4 linked regions of the Homo sapiens genome follow. The protein of the gene in region 3 purifies or fractionates together with the protein of the main gene of each other region. This does not show direct contact. Each region holds a gene or a part of one and is shown on either strand. Other genes may lie near its edges.

Region 1 (3,000 bases), on a different chromosome or scaffold from region 3:
TTGCTGTCTTGTCTCTTTTCTTTCTTTTCTTTTCTTTTCTCTTTTTCTTTTTCTTTCTTTCCCCTCCCCTCTCCTCCCCTGTCCTCCCCTCCCCCTCCTCTTCTCCTGTCTCTGTCTCCCTCTCTCTCTCTCTCCGCCTGCCCCCCAACCCCTGCCCCATAAATGCATGCTGGCCCTATCTGTATAACTTTCCTAAAGTATTTTGAGCATAGTGCTGTTTCTTCATTCACTCATTCTTCTACTCATTTATTAAATCAACAGTTATTTAATAATATTCTTCACCTCCTAGAAAAAGTAATGTATACACTCTGTGGGCTACATCTCATTCATCTTTGTACACTTAGCTCAAAAACTGATGCGAAGTAGAGAAATTTGTTGAATATATGAATAAGTAATGTGAAAGAAGTAATCATTACTAATAACATCATTTTAATCAAGCAAATGTCAAATCTCAGAACAAACCTAAGCTGCAAGTGAAATGACAGCATAATAAAACAGCTGGAAGGAAAGAAATCTACTCCCAGCTTTGCAAATGACTAGCCATATGACCTGGGGCAAGTCAGTTAACTGTTCAGCATCTCTCAATCTTAATCTATGGGTTGAAGAAGTTGGTCTGAATAATCTCCAAAGTCTCTTACAGTGCAAGAATTCTATAATGACACAATCAGTTAAGTTCTTCATTGAACACCTTGTGTGTTATCTCTATGAGGTACTGCTCTGGTGAGTTTATAATAAAGCTAGAATGAACAACACAGTGTGGTGTCTAAATCTATGATCAAAGGTACAAGGAATATTCAGAGAGGGAAGAGAAAGCTCCAAGGAGAAGGCCAGGAGCAGTAGCTCATGCCTGTAATTCCAGCACTTTGGGAGGTCAAGGCAGGAGGTGTCTGAGACCAGCCTGAACAACATAGTGAGACCCCTACCTCTACCAAAAAGAAAAGTTTGCATTGGTTCTGTGCCTATTTAAAAAAAAAAAAAAAAAGAAAGACAGTAAGTCTCAAGGAGAAAGCTATGTCTTAAAAGAAATGGAGAATTTGTTAACTGAAGGAAATCAGGATATTCCAACAAGGAATACAAGGTGAGCATGTTATATTTCCTCCCATCGCTGTAACACAACTGTGACTAATTTCCGTTAAGTCACCAAAACACCTTTAGAGGCCATGCGAGCAGTTCTTCCAACTATTCCCCAACACCCACATCCAGTTCTATTCACAAAGTCATGGAACCTTAGGAGATAACTGGTTGGGGAGGTAGATAGGGGGCCACCAAATATTACAGTTAGGGAATAGCACATAATAAGCACCCAACATGCCATTACCTCCATATATTTTTTGAGATCAGCCAGATTCATAACCATTCCCGTAGCAGGGTCAATCTAAAGAATAAACAAAGGTGAATATTACTGTGATAGGCTCTCCATATTAAACGGCTGGCAAATTATTAAAGGCAGTACAATGTGCAGAGACTGTGCCCACATTTGCACATTTGCCTTCATCCCAGAGATAATCATTGACCTCAGCATGGAAGCACCATGTACTTCAAGCATCCTTTTCATTGTATAGCCCTTCTACCTGTCCACATACAGCATATTAAAGACAACACTTTGGTAGAGGAGAGGCCTGGAATGGCGGCAGCTCACCACACACACATATACAAGGGCCAACAATGAAGCAATACTGACTGGAACAGTTTTCAACACAGAATCCACCACACTGGCTGAAAGAGAGCCCAGCAATCTGCAAAAACCACACAAATATTTTCTGCACATACCTCTCCATGTACTGTCACCACAACTATGGAAAGAAAACAAAATACAAAAAAAACAGCATGACTTTCAACAGATCAACATCCAAGCACAAGTTAGCAACATACAAGCACAAGTTGGCAACATAAATTATTAGATCTGTCCCCAAAAGCTATACTTAAATATTTACCCCAAAACATCTGTTATTTTAGTTAAGATTTTTTTTTTAGCAACCAAAGCAAGACACAATCGAGACAAAGGAGCTTAGTAGGAATGTTGGCTAAGCAGAGGCACTCGGCCAAGGCTGAAAAGGGTGTAAATTCTGCTTATGTTAATGCACTAGGGAGCATCAAGATGCTGCTCAGTCTCTGCCTGTAGAAGTAGAAAATGTCTTTCAGGTGTCCAGCTACACAGCAAGCTGGTCCAATACTGAGCAGTACCTTTCTGAACAAGCAATACTACTGGGCCTTAAATTCTTGTCCCCTTACTCACATGAATGTATACAAAGTCTAAAGTAATGCTTTGTAAATTAAAAAGTGCTTGTGAGAAGCATTTGAAAAATCTTGGCCAGGCGTGGTGGCTCAAGCCTGTAATCCCAGCACTTCGGGAGGCCGAGGCGGGCAGATCACCTGAGGTCTGGAGTTTGAGAGCAGCCTGGCCAACATGGTGAAACCCCATCTCTACTAAAAATACAAAAATTAGCCAGGCATAGTGGCGGGCGCCTGTAATCTCAGCTACTCGGGAGGCTGAGGCTGGAGAATCGCTCGAACCTGGGAGGTGGAGGTTGTAGTGACGGGAGATCACACCATTCCAGCCTGGGCAAAAAGAGTGGAACTCCATCTCAAAAAAAAAAACAACAACAACAAAAAAAAACTTTATCAGTGCTTTACACATTAATAACTTTTATGAATTTATGTATTTTAGTTCTGTACAAATACCATTAGATATTACATGTAAGTGAGTACACTGAGACTGAGATACCATAGATTAAGGAAGAGGCTGTAGCTAAACCAGTAATCCTAATCTCCTGACACCTTGTCTGTTTTTTTTTATGCCACCACACCACATACTGTTTTATACTCTACGACTTATGTACCTGTTTTTTAAGGCAGGCTGTACCTCAAAGAATCAAGTCTCTTATCCTTGAACAAATTACCTACTTTCTTCGAACACTGCTGGCAAAGCTTTAGACCAAACCTATTTTTCTGCCATACATTACATTCCTAGGCAACATTCCCCTTTTGTCAGTCATTATT
Region 2 (3,977 bases), on a different chromosome or scaffold from region 3:
TTTAAAGGATAAAGCCTTACTGCAATTTATATTCTGTTTTGATCAGGTTCTTACAGGAGTTGCAGGAGAAGATGCAGAGTGTCATGCAGCAAAATTGTTAGAGGTCATCATTCTGCAGTGCAAAGGGCGTGGCATTGACCAGGTCAGTGAAGCTAATAATGATTTGTAGTTCAGAGGGGTAATCTTTTCCTTCCACTTTCTTTCTTCATTTTTTGGCATTTGTTGCATATTCTGTATGTTTTTGTTTATTGAGACATCTAGACAACTAATATTTTTAGTTCAAAATGTAACTAATATATAATAATGATCATATGTTTAATGTACAGGAATTGGACTAAGTTTTATGGCTACTTTGTTATCATGAAAGGTAAACTTTTGCTTAAGATTTTTTGGATAGCTTTAGTAATTAAATATCCATGGTCAGTTTTTTTGTTTGTTTGTTTTGTTTTGTTTGTTTTTTGTTTTTTGTTTTTTTTGAGTGAGAGTCTTGCTCTGTTGCCCAGACTGGAGTGCAGTGGCACATTCTCTGCTGACTGCAACCAGATTCAAGCAGTTCTCCTGCCTCAGCCTCCCAAGTAGCTGGGATTACAGGTATACACCACCACAACCGCCTGATTTTATATATATATATATATATATATATATTTTTTTTTTTTTTTTTTTTTTTTTTTTTTTTTTTGAGACGCTGTCTCGCCCTGTCGCCTAGGCTGGAGTGCAGTCGCGCAATCTCAGCTCACTGCAACCTCTGCCTCCCAGGTGCAAGCAGTTCTCTGCCTCTGCCTCCTGAGTAGATGGGATTATAGGTGCCTGCCACCACACCTGGCTAATTTTTTATATTTTTAGTAGAGAAGGAGTTTCGCCATTTTGGCCAGGCTGGTCTCAAACTCCTGACCTCAAGTGTTCTGCCCACCTCAGACTCCCAAAAGTGCTGGGATCGCAGGCATGAGCCACGTCACCCGGCCCACGGTCAATTTTAATAGGAACTTGTGAAGCCATGATTGATATCATCGTGAGCTTTTATTTATTTTTTATTTATTTCATATATTTTTTTGAGACAGAGTCTCGCTCTGTCGCTCAGGCTGGAGTGCAGTGGCGCGATCTCAGCTCACTGCCTCTGCCTCCCAGGTTCACGCCATTCTCCTTCCTCAGCCTCCCAAGTAGCTGGGACTACAGGCACCCGCCACCACGCCTGGCTAATTTTTTGTATTTTTAGTAGAGACGGGGTTTCACTGTGTTAGCCAGGATGGTCTTGATCTCCTGACCTCGTGATCCGCCTGCCTCAGCCTCCCAAAGTGCTGGGATTACAGGCGTGAGCCACCACTCCCGGCCCGTCGTGAGCTTTTAATAGCTCCATGAAGACTACTAGACTTTCTCTAAAATTAGATTTCCCAGTGCAGTGCCTCAGCAGTAAATATTGGTCATCTAATGCTACAATAGGGTTAATTGAGGCAACAAAGAAGTTAATATTTTTAGAATGTTTGCATGCTATTAATTATAGTCTTAGAATATCTTGCTATCTTTTTTTGTAGTGCATTCCCTTATTCGTGGAAGCAGCCTTAGAAAGACTGACAAGAGAGGTTAAGACAAGTGAACTTCGAACTATGTGTCTGCAAGTTGCAATTGCAGCTTTGTATTATAATCCACACCTACTACTCAATACCTTAGAAAATCTTCGCTTCCCTAATAATGTTGAACCAGTTACAAATCATTTTATTACACAGTGGCTTAATGATGTTGACTGTTTCTTGGGGTAAGTGATGTATTGCAATTTTACTACATTTGCTTTGGGAGGAACTCTGCTTATTTAAGAAAAGAAAACAGTTTTTTTTTTTTTTTTTTTTTTTTTTTTTTTTAGGCTTCATGACAGAAAGATGTGTGTTCTCGGACTCTGTGCTCTTATTGATATGGAACAGATACCCCAAGTTTTAAATCAGGTTTCTGGACAGATTTTGCCGGCTTTTATCCTTTTATTTAACGGATTGAAAAGAGCATATGCCTGCCATGCAGAACATGAGAATGACAGTGATGATGATGATGAAGCTGAAGATGATGATGAAACCGGTAAGGGATTTTCAATGGAAGAAGACAAAACTTATCTACTTAGAAATATTACCGCACTGGGCCGGGCGCAGTGGCTCAGGCCTGTAATCCCAGCACTTTGGGAGGCTGAGGCAGGTGGATCACACGGTCAGGAGTTCGAGACCAGCCTGGCCAGTATGGTGAAACCCCACCTCTACTAAAAATACAAAAATTAGCTGGGTGTAGTGGTGGGCACTTGTAGTCCCAGCTACTTGGGAGGCTGAGGCAGGAGAATCGCTTGAACCCATGAGGCGGAGGTTGCAGTGAGCCAAGATTGCATCACTGCACTCCAGCCTGGGTAACAGAACGAGACTCCATCTCAGATTAAAAAAAAATATATATATATATCACTAGCCCTTCTCCCAAATAAATGTGGGATCATACCCAAATGCTTTCATTCACAGAAAAGACTTCCTTTCTTCTCACTAGAGTGATGTAATCAGGAACTTCAGCTGTATTACCAACATGTAGAACAGTTCAAACCATTATAGTATGCAACCAACAAAGATTTGTTTATTTTACACATTCTCAGCACTGTAGATACAAAGATGAATGAGATGTCATGCAGTTCTTCAAAAGTTTTCTATCCGACTGTGGGAAAGTATTACAAAGCCAAATAATTATGTATATAATAATAGAGTTGACACGAAGTGCTGAGTCCACTTAAGAGCGAGAGATTATAGTTCCCTTTTTTATATGGTGGCATGAGCCTATAGTCCCAGCTACTTGGAAGTCTGAGGTATCAGATTCGCTTGAGCCCAGGAGTTTGATTCCAGCCTGGGTAACATAGTGAAACCCCAGTTTTTTGTTTTTTGGCTTTTTTTCCTTTGAGACGGAGTTTTGCTCCTGTTGCCCAGGCTGGAGTGCAACAGCGCGATCTTGGCTCACTGCAACATCTGCCTCCCGGGTTCAAGCAATTCTCCTGCCTCAGCCCCCCAGATAGCTGGGATTATAGGCACGTGCCACCATGCCCAGCTTATTTTTGTATTTTTAGTAGAGACAGGATTTCACCATGTTGGCCAGGCTGGTCTGGAACTCCTGACCTCAGATGATCCACCCTCCTGGGCCTCCCAAAGTGCTGGGATTACAGGCGTGAGCCACTGCACTGAGCCGTGAAACCCCATTTCTTTAAAAAAAGTTGTGGGGATTACATGAGGGAATCCTTGACGCTTAAATAGTGCTTGGCAGATGGCACTGAATTAACAGTATTAACAAAGGTACACATATCATTATAGTTACTATTACAAGATTTATGGGGGTTTTTTTTGTTTGTTTTTTTTTGTTGTTGTTGTTGAGACGGAATCTCGTTCTGTCGCCAAGCTGGAGTGCAATGGCAATCTTGGCTCACTGCAACCTCCGACTCCCGGGTTCAAGCGATTCTCCTGCCTCAGCCTCCCAAGTAGCTGGGATTACAGGCGTGTGCCACCACACCGGCTAATTTTTGTATTTTTAGTAGAGATGGGGTTTCACCGTGTTGGCCAGGGTGGTCTCAATCTCCTGACCTCATGATCTGCCTGCCTTGGCCTCCTAAAGTGTTGGGATTACAGGCGTGAGCCACCGCGCCCGGCGAATTATGGGGTTTTCATTTTATTTTTAAGCTTCTAAAGATTTATGGTCTTAATGTTGACTAAATTTATTGGAGACATCCATCCTATCATCTATTAATTCTAAAACCTAAGCATACTTGCACTATAACATTATGTTAATTAAATGTTGATAAATACATTTTATCTATAAGACTGTACACTATCAGTGTATAAATTGATAAAATATTAAGAGAAATTATTATAAGGGTTTCAACATAAGATAGCTATTGCTATTTTTGTCTTTTATCATTTACTAACTTAGCCAGCCTTTTAAAAAAAATCTTACAAAAGGTTTGGTGGGTGTAACGGTAG
Region 3 (4,292 bases):
TGAGAGTTTTTTTTTTTTTTTTTTTTTGGTTTTAAGGAGCGGAAAGTTTAATAGGCAAGAAAGAAAAGAGAAGGCAGAAGGAAGAGGCTCCCCTGACAGAGACAGAGGGAGGGGGGCTCCAAAGCCGAGAGAGGGAACCTCCTGAATGAGAGTTTCTACGGCCCTGCATCCTCACCAGCATTTTGTGTTGTCAGTGTTCTGGATTTTAGCCATTTTATTTATTTATGTTTTTAATTTTTATTTTTTTTGAGATGGAGTCTTGCTCTGTCACACAGGCTGGAATGTAGTGGCGTGATCTTGGCTCAGTGCAACCTCCCCTTCCCAGGTTCAAGTGATTCTCCTGCCTCAGCCTCCCGAGTAGCTGGGATTACAGGTGCGCACCACCATAGCCCAGCTAATTTTTGTATTTTTAGTAGAGATGGGGTTTCACCATGTTGGTCAGGCTGGTCTCGAACTCCTGGGCTCAAGTGATCCACCCACCTTGGCCTCCCAAAATGCTGATTACAAGCGTAAGTCACTGTGCCTGGTTATGGTTTGTGTTTCAATCTCTTAATTATGTGATTTGATTTTGTTTTGTTTTTGAGACAGGGTCTCGCTCTGTCACCTAAGTGGGAGTGCAGTGATGTGAACACGGTTTACTGCAGCCTCGACTTGCTGGACTCAAGCAGTCCTCCTGCCTAAATCCCCGCAAGTAGCTGGGACTACAGGCACATGCCGCCATGCTTACCTAATTTTTTGTATTTTTTTGTAGAGATGGAGTTTTGCCCTGTCGCTCAGGCTCATCTTGAACTCCTGAGCTCAAGCAATCCATGTCCACCTCAGTCTCCTAAAGTGCTGGCATTACAGGTGTGAGCCACCGTGCTCAGCCCAATTATGTGTTTTTTAAATCATTCAGTAACATATCTTTGAAGTATTTCCATATCAGAGCATAGAGGTTGCTCATTCTTTTTTTTCCTAATCTTTAATTGTGTGACACATGTACAGAATAGTGTATTAAGACATAACACTCTTTAAATGTGTTATAACAACATATATAACAAATATATATGCATTAAAGAATAATAATAAAATGGGTGCCCATGTAGGCACCCAAGTTAAGAAATAGAACATTATCTGTTCTTTATGACAAATTTTCTGATTGAATCCACCTAGTAGATAGCCACTATCTTGACATTTTTCTTAATAGTTCCCTTGCTTTCCTTAAAGACTTTACCACTTAGATATATTCTTAATGTAATATTCAGTTGATAAACTATAACTGGGATTAATATCACTTATAGTCTTAATATAAAATTTAGTTAACAAACTATAACTGGAATTAATATTGCCTTGGTTTGCATAATCTTTTGTCTAATTGGTGGAGGTTTTTTTTTCCTTTCAGACATGTGAGATCTAAAAGATGCATCCGTGGGCCCTTTGCCAAGACTTAGGTTATCATTTATTTTTTAAATTACACTAGCTAGTGTTAGCTAAGAAGAAATGAAACCACTCATGTATTGCTGGAGATAGTATAGAATGATACAGCCTTACTGGGAGCAATGTGGCAACACCAAGCAAATTTAGCAGTGTAAAGCAGCTGTGTCTAGAAATTTGGCTACTGTTGGGGCCAGGTGTGGTGGGTCACGCCGGTAATCCTAGCACTTTGGGAGGCCGAGGTTGGTGGATCACTTGAGGTCAGGAGATCGAGACCAGCCTGGCCAACATGGCGAAACCCTGTCTTTACTAAAAATACAAAAAAAATTAGCCGGGCGTGGTAGCATGCGCCTGTAATCCCAGCTACTTCGGAGGCTAAGGCAGGAGAATCGCTTGAACCCAGGAGGTGGAGGCTGCAGTGAGCCGAGATCATGCTACTGCACTCCAGCCTGGGCAACAGAGTAAGACTCTGTCTCAGAAAAAGAAAAGAAAAGAAAAGAAATTTTGCTACTGTTGGACAAAGCCTCCCAGGAAAAGATGAGCTGAATTGAATTTCCAGGTATAGCCTGGCTTTGACTTTCCTGAGAGTTTACAGAAGTCCCGTTTGGGGAGGTTATTGGCAAGGTCATGAGAAGCATGGGGCTCAACATAGTTGGGCCGTGTGACAGGGTCAGAGTGTAGACTAGGTATTGAATTTTTGGTACGAATATAATTAGAGGGAGTGGGATGCTATGCATTTTCTGCATCTTGGTTCACTGGTGAATAGCCACCACTCAGGAGTAGATTAAAGCAGAACACTTCTGTGACATGAAATGACTGTTCTCATCTGATCCAAGGCAGTCTGGTATGGAGGGGAAAGACAGATGTCATCAGAACATGTTCAAGATAAGCCAAACCAAGTACAGTTAAGAATCTGGGCCAGGCTCACCCAGGCATTCTGCCCTCAGGTTAATAAAAAGTTGGTACAGTGGCCGCAGGTATCTTGTTGATGACAACCCTCAGAATGCCAGCTTTTGAATCACTGTGTTCCAGTCCGTAACTACAAGTAATGTGGTGTTAGTAGAGAATCAGTGCTATTTCACCATCTCCCACCGCTGTCTCCTTCCCACTCCTAGGGATTTCCTTCCTCTCTCTCATGTTGATCTTTTGTTTGCAGCGTCTCTTTTTTGGATTACTGTTGTTTTATTGAAGTACATGCTTCAGCAGCTTCTTGAGAAAGGGTTTGTGAGAGGTATGTTTTTTAGGCTGAATTTCTGAAAATGTCTTTTTTTTTTTTTTTTTTTTGAGACAGTCTCACTCTGTCTCCCAGGCTGGGGTGCAGTGGTGTGATCTTGGCTCACTGCAATCTCTACCACAGGGTTCAAGCAATTCTCCCGCCTCAGCCTCCTAAGTAGCTGTGATTACAGGTGTGTGCCACTACACACGGTGAATTTTTGTATTTTTAGTAGAGACGGGATTTCACCCTGTTGGCCAGGCTGGTCTTGAACTCCTGGCCTCAAGTGATACGCCCTCCTCAGCCTCCCAAAATGCTAGGATTACAGGTGAGAGCCACTGCACCTGGCCTTCATTCTGTTCTGGTATTTGATTGATAGCTAGGTATGAATGTGGATTTGTCCATTCCTCAGTTTAGTTCTGTCAGGCTTGATATAATTTGAAGCTGTGTTAGTCATTGCATATATGGTTATGGATGTGTGCACACATATGATTCTGTCTTCCTGATGGACTTATCCTTTTATCATTTTGAAATGCCCCTCTTTATCCCTGATAATACTGCTTTTCTGATAAAAATAAAGCCATACCTACCTCTTCTGGGTTGGTTGGTTGGTTTGTTTTGAGACCGGATCTGGCTCTGTTACCCAGGCTGGAGTGCAGTGGCTTGATCTTCACTCACTGCAGTCTTTGCCTCCTGAGTTCAAGTGATCCTCCCAGTATTTGGAACTACAGGCGTGTACCACCATGCTCAGGCAATTTTTGTAGTTTTGTTTTTGGTAGAGATGGGATCTCGCCAGGTTGCCCAGGCTGGTCTCAAACCCCTAGGCTTACGAGATCTGTCTACCTCAGCCTCCCAAAGTTCTGGGATTACAAATGTGAACCACCATGCCTGGCCCATACCTCCTTTTTTTTATGATTAGTGTTATGGTATATATTTTATTTTTGCTTCAACCTATTTATGTTCATATGTTTATAGTATATTTCCCCTAAATAGCTTGTAGTTTGGTCGTGGTTTTGATCCAGCCTGTTTCTTTTTTCTTTTTTTGAGACAGGGTCTTCCTCTGTTGCCCAGGGTGGAATTTAGTGGCATGAACACAGCTCACTGCAGCCTCAAGTTCCTTGATCCAGCCTATTTCTGTCTATTTTTTTTTTTTTTTAATTTTTTTTATTTTTTGAGACAGGATCTCTCTTTCTCACCCAGGCTGCAGTGCTGGAGTGAAGTGGTGTGATCTTGGCTCATTGCAGCCTCAAGCAGTTCTCCCACGTCAGCCTCCTGAGTAGCTGGGACTACAGGCCTGTGACAGTTAATTTTAATTTTAATTTTTTTTATTTTTTTTGTCGTGATGAGATCTTGCCTCCCAAAGGGCTGGGATTATAGGCGTGAGCCACCATGCCTGGCCTATTTCTGTCTTTTAATTGGTTTATTATTTTATTTGTGATTTTTTTTTTTTTTTTACAGGCATAGGTGAATTTCAGTGTGTCATTTTGCTATTTATTTTTAGTTGTCCTGTGTGTTCCTATTTTCCCTTTTATCTTTTTTTTAAGTGGTTGCTGTAGAGATTACAGCTTATAATCTTAACTGACCACCTCTTTAATATTTTGCATATTACTTTACAGTTCGTCTGAAGTGTTTATGGGTTAAAACTAATATATAGGTACTGTCTACA
Region 4 (3,977 bases), on a different chromosome or scaffold from region 3:
TATTTCATTACACAACTTTAAGGAATCTTCTTAGGCTTTTTTTTTTTCCCTGACCCTCCTCTCCTCCCCACACGAAAGTTTAATGTTTTAGTGTCATGAATATATTGTATATGTTTATATATCATGTGTATCTGTGATTTATGCATAAAAAGAGGGAGATTTTCTTCATTCCTCCCTGCCCCAGAACCAATTTTCAGCCTCTTAGGGCAGTATGACTCCTTTTGAGAATGCATGGTCTAGGGGAAAGCAAATCTACTTTAAGATAGATAAAAATCTACTGCAAATCTATAGTAGATTTTAATACCACCGTCTATCAGAAGTCCCCAAGTGACTGAAGGCATCTAGGGTGATAAGTACTTGAAACTCCACCATGAAAAGGAAGTATATTTGAGGTGTTCAATCTAAATCTTGAAGCATATGAGGAAAAAGCTCCAACTGTCCTAATTTTAAGGTGATTCTAATAGTCTGTAGAAGTTTTAAATTTTTGTGTTTACAAAAAGCTAGTAACAGCTAACTCACCTATTCCAAATATTATAACGGTCGGAAAGCCAGCCATCATAAAAATTACTTTTCAGCCAGCTAGTTTTCACAAAAAGAGAAGAAAACATTGCAGTGTATCTTTGATCTAATTAATTTCACATCTGTGGTTTGATGTTCAATGATAGGAAGATTGAAGTCATGTTATCTGAGATAAAGCTTTCTTCAGATATCCAAATGCTTTCTCCAAAACACAATGCCTTTGGTTTTTGATTTGTATATTTGTTTGTTTCTTCTTATTAGTTAGCAAGAGGTTGGAAAACAGATTCATCAACAAGTAGAGAGTGGTGAGTTGATTCCCAAATCACAGCTAGGGCATTGCCTGTAACGAGATGACCATATCCTTGCCCTTTCCTTTTTAAAACCTTAGTGTATAATGACTTTGTAGGCAACCTTATTAGGTTTTTCACCTGTTGGACCTGGTTAACGATACAGTTCCAGGTGAAGAGAGTAGAACGTTATAAAGTTGGAAGAGACGTTAGACATAATTTCTTTTTTTTATCTTTTAAATTCAGGGGTACATGTGCAGGTTTGTTATATAGGTAAACTTGTGTCATAGGGGTTTGTTGTACGTATTATTTCATCACCCAGGTGTTAAGCCTAGAACCCATTAGTTATTTTTCCTGATCCTCTACCTCCTCCCACCCTTCACCTCCAATAGGCCCCAGTGTGTGTTGTTCCCTTTATGTGCCCGTGTGTTCTCATCCTTTAGCTCCCACTTATAATTTCAGTAGCTAACAAATACTTACTGACTATTATGCCAGCACTGAGATAAGTGTACTTCAAAGGAAAATATAAGGGAATACTTATAAGTATTAAGTAATACCTATAAGGGAATATTTAATAGTAGGGAATAGGGAGTAATTATACTAAACTGTGAAGAATGAGTTGAAGATAGCTAGGTTAAGAAAAGATTAGCTGCCCAAGCAAAGGAAATAGAATAAACAATGGCCTTGAAATATAATCAATGTGTATCTGTGGGACTGAAAGACCAGTTTGGCTGGAAGCGATGGAATGGTAAAACATAGGCTGAAGAGGAAATTAGGGTACAAAGCAAGTAGAACCTCATACGACACATTAAAAATTTGAAATCATAGGCCGGGTGCAGTGGCTCACGCGTGTAATCCCAGCACTTTGGGAGGCCGAGGCGGGCAAATCACCTGAGGTCAGGAGTTCCAGACCAGCCTGGCCAACATGGCAAAACCCCATCTCTACTAAAAATATAAAAATTAGCCAGGCATGGTGGCAGGCGTCTGTAATCCCAGCTACTTGGGAGGCTGAGGCAGGAGAATCGCTTGAACCTGGGAGGCAGAGGTTGCAGTGAGCCGAGATTGCATCATTGCACTCCAGCACAGGTGACAAGAGCGGGACTCCATCTCAAAAAAAAAAAAAAAAAATTGGAATCATATTTTTTTATTGAGATATGATGCACATACTACAAAATGTAAACTTCGTTGTTTTTCAGGGTATGAAAATCCAGGATATTTATGGATTCATAATGTGCAGATATCACCAGTAATTTCAATATTTCCATCACTCCAAAGAGAATCCTTATACTATTAAGTCACTTCCAATTCCCCCTTGCCCCGTCCTCTGCCAACCACAAATCTACTTTCTGTATCTATACATGTGCCTTGCCTGGACATTGCACATAAATGAAATAGAATATTTCGCTTTTTGTGTCTGACTTTCACATAGCATAATGTTTTCAGCCTTATTCCATGTTGTAGCAGGTATTAGTACTTCATTCCTTTTTATAGCTGAATATTTCATTATATGAATATGCCATATTTTGTTTGTCCATTCATTAATGGACACTGTTATGAAAAATGCAGGCCAGCTGTAATGGCTCACCCTGTAATCCCAACACTTTGGGAGGCCAAGGCAGGAGGATTGCTTGAAGCCAGGGGAGCGAGACCAGCCTGGGCAGCATACTGAGACACCCCATCTGTACCAATAAGTAAGTAATTAGCTGGGCATTTATTTGGTGGTACATGCCTCTAGTCCTAGCTACTGGGTTGGCTGAAGTGGGAGGATCACTTCAGCCCAGGAGTTCAAGGTTATAGTGAGCTATGATTGAGCCACTCTACTTCAGCCTGGGTGACAGAGCAAGACTCTGTCTCTGAAAAAAAATAAACTGACCATAAATGTCTGGATTCCATGCTTCAGAGTTGACTAGATAAATAAGAAAGGTCTGGATTTTTTATTTTGTTCCACTAATTTCTGTGTCTAACCTCATGCCCGTACATCGTCTGGATTACTGTAGCTTTACAGTAAGTTTTGAAATTGGTAAGTGTAAGTGCTTCAACTTTTTCTTCATTTTCAAGATTATTTTGGCTATTCCAGCCCCCTTGTATTACCTTAGGAGTTTTAGGATGTTTGTCAATTTCTGCACAAAAGGCAGTTGAGATTATGATAGGAATTGTGTTGAATGTATCGGTGAATTTTGGGAGTATTGAGTTTTTAACAATATTGAACCTTTCAGTCCATGAACACAGTATGTCTTTGCGTGGATTTAGGTCTTTAATTTCCTCCAGTGACGTTTTCCAGTTTTTAGTATGCAAGTCCTTTACTTTTGTTAAACTTATTCCTAAGTATTTTATTTCTTTTGATGCTATTGTAACTAGCATTGCATTCTTAATTTTTGGTAGTTCATTGAGATTTATTGACTTTTATATATTCACTGTGTATCCTGCAACCTTGTCGAAGTCATTTATTAGCTCTAATAGTTTTTGTTTTGTTTCGTTTTGTTTTTGGGACAGAGTTTCGCTCTTGTTGCCCAGGCTGGAGTGCAATGGCGCAATCTTGGCTCACCACAACCTCTGCCTCCCGGGTTCAAGCGATTCTCCTGCCTCAGCCTCTGGAATAGCTGGGATTACAGGCATGCATCACCTTGCCCAGCTAACTTTGTATTTTTAGTAGCACCAGGGTTTCTCCATGTTGGTCAGGCTGGTCTCGAACTCCCGACCTCAGGTGATTTGCTGGCCTTGGCCTCCCAAAGTGCTGGATTATAGGCATGAGCCACCATGCCCCGCCCAGGGAGGTTTCTTAACTCCTTTTTTTTTTTTTTTTTTTTTTTTTTTGAGACAGAGTCTTGCTCTGTTGCCCAGGCTGGAGTGCAATGGCACCATCTCGGCTCATTGCAACCTCCACCTCCCTGGTTCAAGTGATTCCCCTGCCTCAGCCTCCCTAGCAGCTGGGATTAAGGTGGACACCACCATGCCTGGCTCATTTTTTTGTATTTTTAGTAGAGACGGGGTTTCACCATGTTGGCCAGACTGGTCTCGAACTCCTGACCTCAGGCAATCTGCCTGCCTTGGCCTCCCAGAGTGCTGGGATTATAGGTATGAGCCGTGGTGCCTGGCCTCTAATAGTTTTTTTGTTGTTGTTGTTGTTGTTTTTTATGGCTTCCTTAGGATTTTCTATATAAGACATGTCAT

Evidence for each region.
Region 1: the proteins of ZFP1 (region 3) and PTS purify together in Homo sapiens (affinity purification with mass spectrometry; one large-scale study listed by BioGRID and IntAct). This does not show direct contact.
Region 2: the proteins of ZFP1 (region 3) and IPO7 purify together in Homo sapiens (co-immunoprecipitation; one large-scale study listed by IntAct). This does not show direct contact.
Region 4: the proteins of ZFP1 (region 3) and NPAT purify together in Homo sapiens (affinity purification with mass spectrometry; one large-scale study listed by BioGRID and IntAct). This does not show direct contact.

The regions. Positions count from the first base shown.
Region 1 is NC_000011.10:112,229,001-112,232,000, reverse strand, and holds part of PTS (6-pyruvoyl tetrahydrobiopterin synthase), read right to left. Parts: intron 1,794-3,000; coding exon 1,771-1,793; intron 1,376-1,770; coding exon 1,319-1,375; intron 1-1,318. UniProt on the Homo sapiens protein: Involved in the biosynthesis of tetrahydrobiopterin, an essential cofactor of aromatic amino acid hydroxylases. Catalyzes the transformation of 7,8-dihydroneopterin triphosphate into 6-pyruvoyl tetrahydropterin.
Region 2 is NC_000011.10:9,436,225-9,440,201, forward strand, and holds part of IPO7 (importin-7), read left to right. Parts: intron 1-46; coding exon 47-142; intron 143-1,529; coding exon 1,530-1,750; intron 1,751-1,855; coding exon 1,856-2,061; intron 2,062-3,977. UniProt on the Homo sapiens protein: Functions in nuclear protein import, either by acting as autonomous nuclear transport receptor or as an adapter-like protein in association with the importin-beta subunit KPNB1.
Region 3 is NC_000016.10:75,154,568-75,158,859, forward strand, and holds part of ZFP1 (zinc finger protein 1 homolog), read left to right. Parts: intron 1-2,569; exon of another isoform or gene 2,570-2,644; intron 2,645-4,292. UniProt on the Homo sapiens protein: May be involved in transcriptional regulation.
Region 4 is NC_000011.10:108,212,589-108,216,565, reverse strand, and holds part of NPAT (protein NPAT), read left to right. Parts: intron 1-3,977. UniProt on the Homo sapiens protein: Required for progression through the G1 and S phases of the cell cycle and for S phase entry. Activates transcription of the histone H2A, histone H2B, histone H3 and histone H4 genes in conjunction with MIZF.